Linked DNA regions of Homo sapiens. Each later gene encodes a partner of the first gene's protein in a complex. Each region holds a gene or a part of one and is shown on either strand. Other genes may lie near its edges. The genes, in order: USH1C and CDHR2.

Region 1 (6,288 bases):
CACTTACAAAGCCCCAACCCAACCACTGCCTTATTGCCCCTGAGACTCTGTCATGGATTTGTACAAAATGAAAAGGTGAAAGTCACCCATCCCCAGTTGCACTGCACAGAGGCAACTGCTTTCTGTGGTTTGGTCCTGCACTGCTTTGAACATAACTAGTCACTGATGAAGCTTCCCTAGGAGCACGTGTGTTTTAAGCCACCATGGCCACCATTGTCAGTATCATACACCACATTCCTATGGGCCTTCATGCCACAAGGCTCCTGGGTGATCTATTTCAATGTAACCTGGAGAGTGTTCTGTGGACATCAGGACTGGGAGAAATTCCTCCAAAAAGGGCTCTGATGTCAAAGAGGTGTGGAAAACCACGCACAATCTGTCTACCTCTTGGAAAGCTGCAGTGCATGTTAGCACATTCAAGACTGACAAATCCTGCAGTGAGTAGCTCTGTTCAGCTTATAACTCAGCTTTCCCCAAAATTATTAGATCCCAGGCAACTCTTTCAGGAGCACCTTATTACAGCTTCATTTATTCAACAAATATCTACTGAGGTCCTATTTTGTGTCAGGCATTATGTTAAGTGCTGGGGATATTATGGTGAACCAAAAAGACAATCCCTGCCCACGTGGAGCTGACAGTGTGGTGGGAGAGACCATCAGTAAACAAACAGATTAATGATTACGAATTGTGGAAAATGCCAAATAAGAAAAGATTGGGATGCTGTGAGAGAATAGGCAAGATCTACATTCGACTGAGCGGGGGTCAGAGAAGCCCCTTCTGACATTTCCTCTCAGACCTAGAAGAAGAGAAAGCAAGGTAGGGAACAGCGACATGAAGCCTCTGAGGCAGGAGAGAGCATGGCAGCTCAGGGACCTGAACAGACCAGCATGACTGGCAACAGGGAGGGCCGGCTGGCAGAATTGACTCAGGCCTCATACTGTGCTGGAAATGCAGGTCTGTGTCCCTCTGTAATAACAGAGGCTCATCATCAATGATATCCAGGTTCTCCTGAGCTGGGGTGAGGGGGTGTGGAAGGGACAGGGACTAAATGCCCTTTGACTAGCCACTAACCAGGTGGCTAGTTTCCCCTCATGCTTTCTGAGTCCACATGAGCTTTCAGAACCCAGGCTCAGGTCTCTTCTGCTGTCTGGCAATGACCCCCCTTTGCCAAGCCCTGGGCCAGGCACGTGTCACATACAGCCCAGTTGGCCAATCAGCCTCATCTGCCTGCAGGTGGCATTGTGAAAGGGGACGAGATCATGGCAATCAACGGCAAGATTGTGACAGACTACACCCTGGCTGAGGCTGAGGCTGCCCTGCAGAAGGCCTGGAATCAGGGCGGGGTAAGAATAAGGCCCCTCCCTCCTTTCCTCCCTCACCTGCCTGCCTCAAACCCTGGCCTCTGCAGCCAGGTCTCACAATAGGATGCCTCATTCCAGGGTGGGCATCTGGAGTCCAGGCAACACTTTGGTGACACCATACCCCATCCAGCCTGTGGTTTAAATCTGACAAGATGGGATTCAGAAAAATAGATGTCAATTCCTGACCTTGGATCCAAAAAGCCAGTGGCTTAAACAGACTCTTGAAGCCAGGGCATGGCAGGTCACCCAAGAAAAAGACTTAAGGTCTTTTCTAAGTGCACACTGAACAAGAATCAAGAGAATTCTGGGGGCTACCAGAAAGCATTAACAAAAGCAGAGAACCCAGGATGAAGGAGGGGCTGGTGGGAATCTGCTCTGCACTCATTAGACACCCACCTGGATCACGGCCACTGCATAAGATTGCCCAGGCTGTGCACTACATAATCTGAGGGGGTGCCCTTTTACAGACTGTAGTGTGAATGGTGCCTGCTCATGGTGTGCAATGCACAACCTGTGCAACTGTATGCAGGCAGCCGAGCCTGAGGTATTAAGTTCAGTGCCGAGGAAGCTGACCAGATGGGCCTGGGACCCACATGAAGGGATGTGGAGAAGAGAAGACTCACGGGTAACATGATGACTATCTTTGATTATCTGAAGGTCTGCATTAGGGCAGAGGGAGCAGAAGTGTTCTCTCTGATTCTTGAGGGAAGACCTGGATTGGATGGAGGGAAGTCCTGGGGAAAGAGAGAGAGATTTCAGCTCAATATTAGGAACCAGCTCATGGTAGAGGGGCCCAGTGATATTTCCAATACTTTTCAGGGGATACACCTAAGCCAAGGAGGGAGAATGAGGGGCAAGTCAAGGATGGCAGTAAAAGGGATTCAGGTGTTAGGATCAAAAAGCTGGGCCAGAAGTCCCCCACTTGATTGTGCATCAGAAAGTGCGTCGGAATTACCCAGAGAGGTTGTTAAAAGTACTATTTCCCAGGACTCACCCTTGACTTCTGGGGGCCAAGTCTACGAGCCTACACTTTTAAGAAGTTCCCCCAAGTGATTCTGAGGTTGCTGCCTGTCCCCGGTCCATAGATTGACATTTGGGAGCTGAGTGTCATTCAAGGGCCTTGCAGCCCTGTCCTCTATGGTCCCGAAGCCTCAGAGACTAGAAACGTCCTCAGACCATGGAAGTCACAGTGGGCCCCAGGTGGGCCCGTGGGAAGAAGGTGCAGCCTGGCTGATCCTAGGCCATGGGGCCCAGAAATGGGGATGGAGTGCCGGGGCAGATGCACCATCCAACTGAGTGTGCCCCAGAGTCACACGGCTTCTCCCCACAGGACTGGATCGACCTTGTGGTTGCCGTCTGCCCCCCAAAGGAGTATGACGATGAGCTGTAAGTGTGTGCAAGCACCTAGCCTGAGACCTCTTCTTCCTTCTCCAGAATCTCAGCCACCTTTCTCCAGCCCATCCCCAGCCTTCTCCCAGCCTGAAGGAATGGCCCAAGCACGCAGCTTCTCATAGCCAGAGCTCCTAGAAAACTCCTGGACTAGAGCCAAGTCATTGTCCTTAAGCAGTGTCTGAGCTGCCTCCCGGGCAGTCTTGTCCAAATTCTTCTCTACTATGGGGAATTGAGGCATGAGGTCTTAGACCGGGTAAGCAGAGACGTTGGGAAAAAGACTCAGGATTGTTAATTCCCCACTCAGAACTTTATCCCCTGCCCCATTATTAGATGGTTAGAAGGTGTCTGTGTCCATCCTTCACTCTCTGGAAGGTCTTCCTGATGTCTAACTGCATTCACTCATACTGTGCCTCTAGGCAGCCGGGACCACAGGCTTTTGTCCCCACGCTGTGGGATCTCCAGGGAGCTTTGGCCTAGACTGTCTCTCTCTGTGATTCCCTGTGTGTCTGTCTCTTGTGTCCTGTGGGTCTCTCTGTCTTCTCTCCTCCTCCCTCTCTGTCTTTCTTTCACCCTTTCCTTCCTTCCTGTCAACATCTTATCTGCCCCCCTCCTTCCCCTTCATCCCGGTCCCCTTTCTCTCTCACTGTCTCCTATTCTTTCTTCCTGTTTCTCTTCATCCCTGTCTCTGAGTCCCTGTTCCTCTGTCCTTGTCATTCTGCATCCATTCTTACCTCTTTGTCTGCCTTTCTCTGTTTCTCTGCCTCTGTGTGGTGTCTCACCTCCATCCTCACCTCATCCCATCACCTCCCCAGCCCTCACCCACCCACCACTCACCCACTCACTGACCATGCCCTGCCTCCCTGTCGTGGCTGGGCCTGCTTGCTCCCCGTGCCCAGCAGAATCTGAGCTCTACACATGTCTTGGAGAAACCAGGGTCTCGCAGCTCCTAATTCTGGAACCCAGGGGCTAGGCAGAACCCGAGGCAGGAGCCCAGTGAAAGGAGAAGCCCCATGGAGCTCTGCCTGGGAGTAACCAAGCCTGTTTTGTGTTTCTTGCTCTGCTCTGTATATATAGAGCTTCTCTTCCCTCCTCCGTAGCTGAAAGCCCCCAACCGGTCCGAAAGCTCCTTGAAGACCGTGCTGCCGTGCACAGACACGGGTTCCTCCTGCAGCTGGAGCCCACGGTGAATAGGCAGGCGGGCCACAGGGCCCTGTGTGTCCCTGCTGCTTGCAGTGGCCATCTGCTGCCCACGCTGTCAGCAGGTTCTTTGGACTGGCGTCTGGAGGGTACACAAGGCGCCATCCCTGAAGTGCTGCCTGGGGCCTGCTGTTGGCCACAGTGGAATTCCTCAGACTCAAAGCCCTCCCCTCAGGGAAGTGGTGCAAAGCCCAGTCTGTAGTACTTGCTTGGGACCCAGGTGTCCTGACTCATCACGGCCCTGGGACCTGCTTTGGGTCCCAAGCAGCACCCAAATGAGCAGGATGAAGCCCTGGGCAACATTCTCTGAGGGACACAGACAATGCCTCGAACCAGGCATGTGGGGCTGAAGGAGCCCACAGGAAGCCTGGCTGGAATTGCCCCCAAGAGATGTCCTCAACAGAATGTGAAAATTCCCCTTCCTGTGAATGCCAACCTCCTGGGAGCTCTTGCTCCACCATGGCCCCCACACTTGGCCAGAACCAGGGCTATTAAGAGGTTTTGAAGGCTGGTCCAAAGAACCAGGGTTGGTGGATTAGAGTTGCTCATGTCCTGTTGTGCCCTGTCATGGCCTGAGCCGTGCTTAGACCAAACGGTCTTCTCTGCCTTCTCCCTTCCTTGGCTCTGGGCTCTATCTGTGGGATATACCGTGGAACCCAGCTGTAGGATGTGTTTCTCACCCTGTGATAGGGATGTGCCCGTGGACAGAGCTGGCAGGTGGCTGTGAAACTGGTGTTTGGTGTGGCCTGAAGCCACAGATGGCAGCATCTGGGGCAGACCCAAGCCTGGACTTGACTTTTCTGTTACAACTTTCCCAAAACATTAGGGCCTCATGCTCCCAAGACACTTGGCCGGGTAGACCATGGCTTCTGGGGTGGCCTGCATGGCCCTATGTTTTCTGTTACTTGCCTTTTGCAAAGGACTCTTGCCCCTGTTCCTCCCAGTCTCCTCCTTCCCCCATCCCAGGTGTCCCTCCCGCTTTCTCCCTGGCCTCCTGTGTGCTGTGGCTGTGGCTGGTGTGTAGCCACTTGGGGCCTGCACCCAGAGGGGTCTCCAAAGGGTGGCAGGGCCTTGTGCTGCCAGAGTGGGTACTCCCCCTTGTGGGGCCTTGCTCTGGCTGGGCTGAGTGTGCACCCACAAAGCCTGTATCCACCTGGGCTGTTTCCACTTCCCTGCAGGACCTTCTTCTGAAGTCCAAAAGGGGAAACCAAATTCACCGTTAGGAAACAGTGAGCTCCGGCCCCACCTCGTGAACACAAAGCCTCGGATCAGCCTTGAGAGAGGCCACACTACACACACCAGATGGCATCCTTGGGACCTGAATCTATCACCCAGGAATCTCAAACTCCCTTTGGCCCTGAACCAGGGCCAGATAAGGAACAGCTCGGGCCACTCTTCTGAAGGCCAACGTGGAGGAAAGGGAGCAGCCAGCCATTTGGGAGAAGATCTCAAGGATCCAGACTCTCATTCCTTTCCTCTGGCCCAGTGAATTTGGTCTCTCCCAGCTCTGGGGGACTCCTTCCTTGAACCCTAATAAGACCCCACTGGAGTCTCTCTCTCTCCATCCCTCTCCTCTGCCCTCTGCTCTAATTGCTGCCAGGATTGTCACTCCAAACCTTACTCTGAGCTCATTAATAAAATAGATTTATTTTCCAGCTTATAGGAGTGAGTGTGGATTTGGGCAGCAGATTCAAGGCTGCAAATCAAAAAACCATAAGGTTTGTGGCCCCTATTCAAGGGTGATAGACAGATCCCAGTGCTGTGATCTGGGTCTGACATGAAGGGTGTGATCAAATGGCCAGGGCTGGCTTGGAGCAGAGGTTGAGAAAGCAGGAGATGGGCTGGGCTGGGCTTCAATGTCTTCTCAGCAGAGATGGTAGGAGATGAAGTCTGTGTGGCAGGGATTTTGCTCAATTCCAGAAAGCAGAGCTGAAGGCAGGAGCCCCGAAGGGTCACCTCATGATATGGGGTGCCCAGCTTCTTTCAAGAACGACACAGCCACCAATGCTTCTCCTGAGGTCACCACGACAGCATGTGAGGGAGGAAGATGGCAGGGTCCACTCCCTCCGTGGAAGCACATCCCACAGAAGCTCATGGGAAATGCAAGGGCTTGAGGCAGGAAGGCATAACTCCGGGGGCCCAGCAGGGGGAATGTCACAGTTCTTCTGGTGACAGGGACCAGGGCTGCTAGCTCTGAGGAAGAGGGTGGGGCTGTATCAGCACGACTCGCCTGACCCCGTCTCTGTTTCCCCATTCCAAATTCCTGTGGTACAATCTGATCAGGCCAAATCACCTGAGCGGGCGACCCTTGGGTTAGGGACCAGTCACAGGTCCAATC
Region 2 (7,271 bases), on another chromosome or scaffold:
ATTTCTTACTATACCAGAATTCTTGAGTAATACAGAGAACTCATAGCTAATTGTAAATTAAGCCAGTGCCTTGTCATTAAATAATTCTCAGAGCCAGCTGGGCACGGTGGCTCAAGCCTGTAATCCCAGCACTTTGGGAGGCCAAGGCAGGTGGATCACCTGAGGTCGGGAGTCTGCGACCAGCCTGACCAACATGCAGAAACCCCATCTCTACTAAAAAATACAAAATTAGCTGGGTGTGGTGGTGCATGCCTGTAATCCCAGCTACTTGGGAGGCTGAGGCAGGAGAGTCACTTGAACTCGAGAGGCGGAGGTTGCGGTGAGTCGAGATCACGCCATTGCACTCCAGCCTGGGCGACAAGAGTGAAACTCTGCCTCAAAAAAAAATAAATAAATAAATAAATTATTGGAGCCAAGTCATAAAAAGGCTTTCAGCTGTTTATGGTGTTGGATGTGGCAAGTTTATTAGGGGTGGTGGCCATGCCGTGTGGGGATGAGGCTTCCCACACCACCGAGGGCTGGGCCTGGCTGGGCTTCTTACTGACCTGGAGAGCTGCCTACCCTCTCTGGGACTCCGTTTCCCTGTTCAACAAGAAGCTAGCAGTTCCCAGAAGGTGGCATGTGGGTGCCATTCCCTATGCTTTGGAAAGGACATGGGTACAAGAGATGGACAGGGCTGGCCTTCCCCACTTAGAGCCGAGTGTAAGGACAGGGTCTCTCGGAGCCTCAGCTTCCTCTTGTAAAATGGGGATAGTAATTCTCCCTCTCTAGGTTGACGTTCATGCTAGAGACAGTGACTGTGTGACTTTCAAGTCTTAAGACAGCTTCCCAATCTTCTGCCAATTTGGTTCTAATGTCAAGAGTTTAGCCACGGCAATTTTCTTTAAATAGATTCCTTTTTAAGACCTAAGCACTGGTGTTGGCCTATCCTTAACAGTAACGTTGGTGAACTCGAAGCTCTGTGTGCTGGTTAAATTTTTCTCTAAAAGGCACTAGAATGAATAAAAATGCTTGTGTCCCCTCCCCAACCAGCTTCATGGTCTACTAGGGGAATTGGTACTCCCCGCACGGAAATGAGGGATCCCAGGGGAGGTGCTTAGGAAATCTGAGCATCGCTGTGTGTGTGCACGCCAGTGTGTGTGTGTCTAAGTGTGAATGTGTGTGCCTGAGGGTGTGTATAAGGGTGAGTGAGTGTATGTGAATGTGTGTGACAGTGTGTGGGTATGTAGGTGATTGTGGGTGTGTATGTGTGTGACTGTGCAAGTGTGTGAATGTGTGTGAATTGAGTGTATTTGTGTGAGTGTGTGTGAATTGAGTGTGTGGTGAGTGCATGAGAGAGTGAGGGTGTGAGTGTGTGTGTCAGGATAAGTGTGTGAGTGTGAGAGGGTGTGTGAGTGTATGTGAGTGTGAGAGGATAAGTGTGTGAGGGTGTGTATGAGTGTGTGCATGTGTGTGAGTGTGTTAGGGTGAGTGAGTGTATGTGTGAGTGGGACAGTGTGTGAGAGTGTGTGTGAGGGTGTGTATGAGTGTGTGTGCATATGTGTGTAAGTGTGTGTTAGGGTGAGACTGAGTGTGAGTGGGACAGTGTGTGAGAGTGTGTGTGTGTGAGAGGGTGTGTATGTGAGAGAGACTGTGTGTGTGAGTGTGTGTGTGTGAGAGAGAGAGAGAGTATGGCAGTGGAGGGGTGTAGGGGGAGCAGGGCAGGATTTCCACATGTGAGGGACTTAGGGCAGTGATCTGTTTGGAGTTGGGGAACAGGGGCAGGTTCTTGTCCAAATCTGGATTTGCAGAGCAGACACACTGTTTTTTGAAACCATTTGCTTATTCGGGGCAGCGTGGGGATGGCGGATAGAGACGGTGAGGGCCAGCCTCCCAGGCCACCCTTGCCTCTGATCCCTGCTGGGGTGGAGGGATGCCTGGCCTGGCTGGGCCCCCAGATATTGTCCACTCTTGCTCCCAGGCCAGAGACGATGATTCAGGGAACAATGGCGTCATCCTGTTCTCCATCCTCCGAGTAGACTTCATCTCTAAGGACGGGGCCACCATCCCTTTCCAGGGTGTCTTCTCGATCTTCACCTCCTCCGAGGCCGACGTGTTCGCTGGGAGCATTCAGTAACTGCGGGCGGCCCCGGGAGGGAGGTTGCGGGGAGGGGCCCGATAGGAGCTTTCAGGCAGCAAGTCCCCCATCCTGGAGGTTACAAGGGTCCTGAGGATTCAGCTTGGGTTCCAAGACTGACCTGCGCCTCCCGCCTTCCGCAGGCCGGTGACCAGCCTCGACTCCACTCTCCAAGGCACCTACCAAGTGACAGTCCAGGCCAGGGACAGACCTTCCTTGGGTCCTTTCCTGGAAGCCACCACCACCCTGAATGTGAGTGCTGGTCCCACCTCCAGCCCCCAACGCCCTCTGCCAGCCCCCAGGGTCCCTGGTGCCTCATCTCCTGCACACCCCCTTCCCAGCTCTTCACCGTGGACCAGAGTTACCGCTCGCGGCTGCAGTTCTCCACACCGAAGGAGGAGGTGGGCGCCAACAGACAGGCGATTAATGCGTAGGTCTGGGGAGCCCCGGAGGGAGGGGTAGGAAGAACAGGGTGTAGGAGCCTGGTCCCCGACAAAACCTGGATGGGATGTCTCTCAATCCTGTTCCTGACCCACATTTGACCTTGTCCCTGTCTTCAACCCTGTACTTTCACCTGCACGACGTTCTTGCATGTCCCCAGAAGCCCATACCCAGCCAAGGGCAGAGGGAAGCCTTGGAACAAGGCTGCCGTGTACAGTTGTGAAGGCTGTGTGTTGCACAAGGGCACTCTGCTTGCTAAGCTATTCACCCAGCCCCAGAGGAAGGGATTTCCTTTTGTAATTTTCACAGAGATGCTACCTACTCAGCCAACAGAGCTGTCCAGAGGAGGTGCCCTTTCTCACTCATACAATTCTTAATCCCACTGGCACAGCCCTGGCCACAGGCCCAGGCTAAGACCCCAGGCCTCTGTGACATCTGCCTTCTTTGCAGGGCTCTTACCCAGGCAACCAGGACTACAGTATACATTGTGGACATTCAGGACATAGATTCTGCAGCTCGGTGAGTGCCCAGAGGCCTGGGGGTGGGGTTGAGGGGGAGAAGCGGTAGCAGGAGGGGCCTGCTGGGTGATCCAGGCTCCTGACTCTTCAACTCTGTCCCGCTCCAGGGCCCGACCTCACTCCTACCTCGATGCCTACTTTGTCTTCCCCAATGGGTCAGCCCTGACCCTTGATGAGCTGAGTGTGTGAGTGGGGCTGCCCTTGGGGCAGGTGTGAGGGTGAGCAGGAAGCCTGGGGTGTGCCAAGGTCCCTCGGGCCTAAGTGGAGTTCTGTGGCCAGGATGATCCGGAATGATCAGGACTCGCTGACGCAGCTGCTGCAGCTGGGGCTGGTGGTGCTGGTGAGTGCGGGCAGGGCGGGGCAGCAGGTGGGGCTGCTGAAGACGAGTGTGCTTCCCTCACACTCATCTTTCTCCAGGGCTCCCAGGAGAGCCAGGAGTCAGACCTGTCGAAACAGCTCATCAGTGTCATCATAGGATTGGGAGTGGCTTTGCTGCTGGTCCTTGTGATCATGACCATGGCCTTCGTGTGTGTGCGGAAGAGGTGCGGCTCCCATTGCCCCCGTGTCTCCAACCTTCACCCTCTCCCACCACCCAAGACGTCGGGGGGTAGGGGTAGAAGGAGCTGGGGCTTAGGCACAGGTATACATGCATTCACTCCCCAGTGACCCAGTGCGAGATCTTGGGTGAGTCACCTCCCCTCCACGGGCCTCAGTTTCCTTATCTGTGAAAGGGCATGAGACTTGATTCCTCAGTGCACTCAAGGAAGTAACATGCATCTCACACCCAGCTAGACGTCTGGCACACACTATGCGTTTAATAGATGCTGCTGCTTTTTCCAACATGTATAGAGTCAGCAGCCGTATCTGGGCTTGACTTCAAGCCTTGTCACTGGCTATTTGACCTTTGGCAAATCACTTGCCTTCTCTGGCTCTTACTTCTACCCTCTGTAAAATAGAGCTAACACTCACCTCCCGGGATCTTGTGAAGCCACAGGCTCAGGGCCTCCACTGGGGACACAACAGGTGTGCAGCAACAGTGTGACCCCTCTTCCGGTTCCCCACAGCTACAACCGGAAGCTTCAAGCTATGAAGGCTGCCAAGGAGGCCAGGAAGACAGCAGCAGGGGTGATGCCCTCAGCCCCTGCCATCCCAGGGACTAACATGTACAACACTGAGCGGTGAGCAGGGGTCAAAGGGTAGGTAAGAGGCCTGGTGGGGTGGCTGAGGGCCAGGCAACTTGACCAGGCTTTCTCTCCAGAGCCAACCCCATGCTGAACCTCCCCAACAAAGACCTGGGCTTGGAGTACCTCTCTCCCTCCAATGACCTGGACTCTGTCAGGTGAGCAGTGCCCCTCACAGCCAGGCTAGGTGGTGGTGGTGGTACAGGTAGTGACGGTGGTGGTGGTGATGGTGTTGGTGGTGATGATGGTGATGACAATGGTGATGGTGTGGTCATGGTAGTAGTGGTAGTTATGGTGGTGGTGGTGATGGTAGTGAGGTGATGGTGATGGTAGCAATGGTGACAGTGGTGATGATGACAACAATGATGGTGGTGATGATGGTGTTGGTGTTGAGGTGATGGTGATGGTTGTGATGGTGATGGTGGTGATGATGGTGATGATGACGATGGTGGTGGTGGTGGTGGTGTTGGTGTTGAGGTGATGGTGATGGTTGTGATGGTGATGGTGGTGATGATGGTGTTGGTGTTGAGGTGATGGTGATGGTTGTGATGGTGATGGTGGTGATGATGGTGTTGGTGTTGAGGTGATGGTGATGGTTGTGATGGTGATGGTGGTGATGATGGTGATGATGACGGTGGTGGTGGTGGTGGTGTTGGTGTTGAGGTGATGGTGGTGATGGTAGTGGTGGTGGGTGATGGTGGTGGCAATGGTGATGGTGGTGGTCATGGTGGTCATGGTAGTGGTGGCAGTTATCGTGGTGGTGGTGGTGATGGTGGTGGTGATGGTGATGGTAGTGATGGTGATGGTGGTGATGATGGTGATGATGACAATGATGATGGTGGTGGTGGTGTTGGTGTTGAGGTGATGATGGTGCTGATGGTGATGGTGGTGATGATGGTGATGATGACAATGATGATGGTGGTGGTGGTGTTGGTGTTGAGGTGATGATGGTGGTGATGGTGATGGTGGTGATGGTGATGGTGGTGGTGGTGGTGTTGGTGTTGAGGTGATGGTGGTGATGGTGATGGTAGTGATGGTGATGGTGGTGGTGATGGTTATGATGATGATGGTGGTGGTGGTGTTGGTGTTGAGGTGATGGTGATGGTGGTGATGATGGATGATGACGGTGGTGGTGGTGGTGTTGGTGTTGAGGTGATGGTGATGGTGGTGGTGATAGTGATTATGATGATAGTGGTGGTGGTGGTGTTGGTGTTGAGGTGATGGTGATGGTGCTGATGGTAGTGATGATGGTAGTTGTGATGATGGTGGTGGTGGTGATGGTGATGATGGTGGTAGTCGTGGTGATGGTGATGGTGGTGATGGAGGTGGTGGTTCTTGGGCACAGTAAGGGAGGACTGGGCCTGCCAACACCTGAGCTCCATCACCTCTCTTACAGCGTCAACTCCCTGGACGACAACTCTGTGGATGTGGACAAGAACAGTCAGGAAATCAAGGCAAGATGGGGGATGAATTGGTGCCTGGAGGTTCCAACTTGGGTTCTTCTGTGGAGGCTTCAGGGCAGAGCTCAAGGGACCTGCTACTGACATGGGCAGTTCTGCTTCTCTGCACCAGGCCCCAGGAAGCCCTGTGGCTTTGGAATGGGGTCCAATTCCTGCTCCTCCACTGGTTCACTGTGTGACCCTGAGAGACTTCTTGCCTCTGCTTCTCAGTTTTTTCACCTGTAAATGGGGATGGGAACATCAACCATGCAGGGCCATTGTGAGGATTAAATAAGGGCAGGCATAAGAACCACTTGGCACAAACAAGTGCTCACCAATCTGCTTCCAGCCCTTTATGGCCGTTATAGGAAAGCCAGCTGGGGGTGGGAAAGCAGATCCAGAGGTGAACCAGCATAGTCTAGCAAAGGAGAGAAGATGGGTTCAAATAAACAACAGTACCGCCATCTGTTAAACAGGTGAGTTGGTTGGATGAGATCAAGTGTTCATAGACTGGCCTGCTGCGTAAAAGCACCTGAGGAGCTCTTGAAAAATACTGATGCCCAGGTCACACCCAGGTCCATGGGTGCAACATTCTAGCATTTTAAAGACCAAGAGTTCTGATTCTGATGGCCCACGTGGAGCCTGGGCATGGACCTGTTGTAAAAGCCGCTCAGGGGGTGCTAAGGTGCAGGCACGGTGGACACCGCTGGAGCGGGTCAGCAGGCTGAGTGTGGGGTGGGTCCTGGACATGGAGGGGTGGCTCTCTGGAAACAGAAGGAACTGCCCTCTCTCCTTCCCACTTTGAAAGCCACCTCTGGAGGAGACGCTTAAGGCCCATTGGAGCTGTGATAGGCTGAGGTTCTGTGTGTGGTGCTGCGGGGGATCCACCCACATTTTCCCCCAGTCTGGGTTCTGGGCTTGGCTGGGTCCCAGGCCACTAGGGGCTCCCAACCTGACTTCATGGTTCAGAATTTGTTTTCCCTGAGGACTCCTTACATGGAAAGATTTGGTCAACCGAAGCCTCTCTTGGTCTTTAAAATGGTAGAATGTCGCACAGGGGCCCAGGTATAACACGGTACAGGGAATCTGGCACAGAGGCCTCCGGACAGGCCCCAGGTATGGTTGTGTGGGTGGTAATGCAGGCAGCCAGGCAGCGCTGGAGGCCTCTGGGTAGATGCTAGGAGATGGTTAGTGGCCAAAACTCTAATGAACATGTCTGGGGAACTGAGGCGAAGGAACAGTCTTGTCTACTGGAGTGCATGGCCTGTGGCAGAGGCTGATGCTGCTCCTAACCCAAGGGAGTGGAGTTAAGGACCCCCTGAGGTGTGGCTGGATCTGTGGACTGGGAAGGGGCAGGGAAGTAGGAGAAGGGTCTGGAGAGGGTGTGGGGACAAGTCACGGAAAGTCTTCAAAGCCAGAAAATTGCTCAGATTATGTCCTGGGAGGGCAGGGGGTTGCTATATTTCTGAGAAGCTGCCCAAGGCTCCACCCTGTCTCCTGCAGCAGTGAGTCTTGCGGGTCTCTGGGCAGGTCCACGAGGCATGGGGCCTTTTTGGGAGCTGTCTGCCCCCTGCTC

What was found.
Region 2: USH1C (region 1) and CDHR2 share a complex: the UniProt entries of both Homo sapiens proteins name them as parts of the IMAC/intermicrovillar adhesion complex.

What each region holds. Positions count from the first base shown.
Region 1 is NC_000011.10:17,493,217-17,499,504, reverse strand, and holds the end of USH1C (harmonin), read left to right. Parts: intron 1-1,233; coding exon 1,234-1,343; intron 1,344-1,890; coding exon of another isoform or gene 1,891-1,986; intron 1,987-2,691; coding exon 2,692-2,747; intron 2,748-3,827; coding exon 3,828-3,936; coding exon of another isoform or gene 3,937-4,152; exon of another isoform or gene 4,153-5,092; intron 5,093-5,128; coding exon 5,129-5,173; 3' UTR 5,174-5,605; downstream 5,606-6,288. UniProt on the Homo sapiens protein: Anchoring/scaffolding protein that is a part of the functional network formed by USH1C, USH1G, CDH23 and MYO7A that mediates mechanotransduction in cochlear hair cells. Required for normal development and maintenance of cochlear hair cell bundles.
Region 2 is NC_000005.10:176,587,071-176,594,341, forward strand, and holds part of CDHR2 (cadherin-related family member 2 precursor), read left to right. Parts: intron 1-1,960; coding exon 1,961-2,112; intron 2,113-2,259; coding exon 2,260-2,368; intron 2,369-2,457; coding exon 2,458-2,546; intron 2,547-3,007; coding exon 3,008-3,076; intron 3,077-3,182; coding exon 3,183-3,260; intron 3,261-3,354; coding exon 3,355-3,415; intron 3,416-3,492; coding exon 3,493-3,617; intron 3,618-4,139; coding exon 4,140-4,253; intron 4,254-4,333; coding exon 4,334-4,414; intron 4,415-5,652; coding exon 5,653-5,710; intron 5,711-7,271. UniProt on the Homo sapiens protein: Intermicrovillar adhesion molecule that forms, via its extracellular domain, calcium-dependent heterophilic complexes with CDHR5 on adjacent microvilli. Thereby, controls the packing of microvilli at the apical membrane of epithelial cells.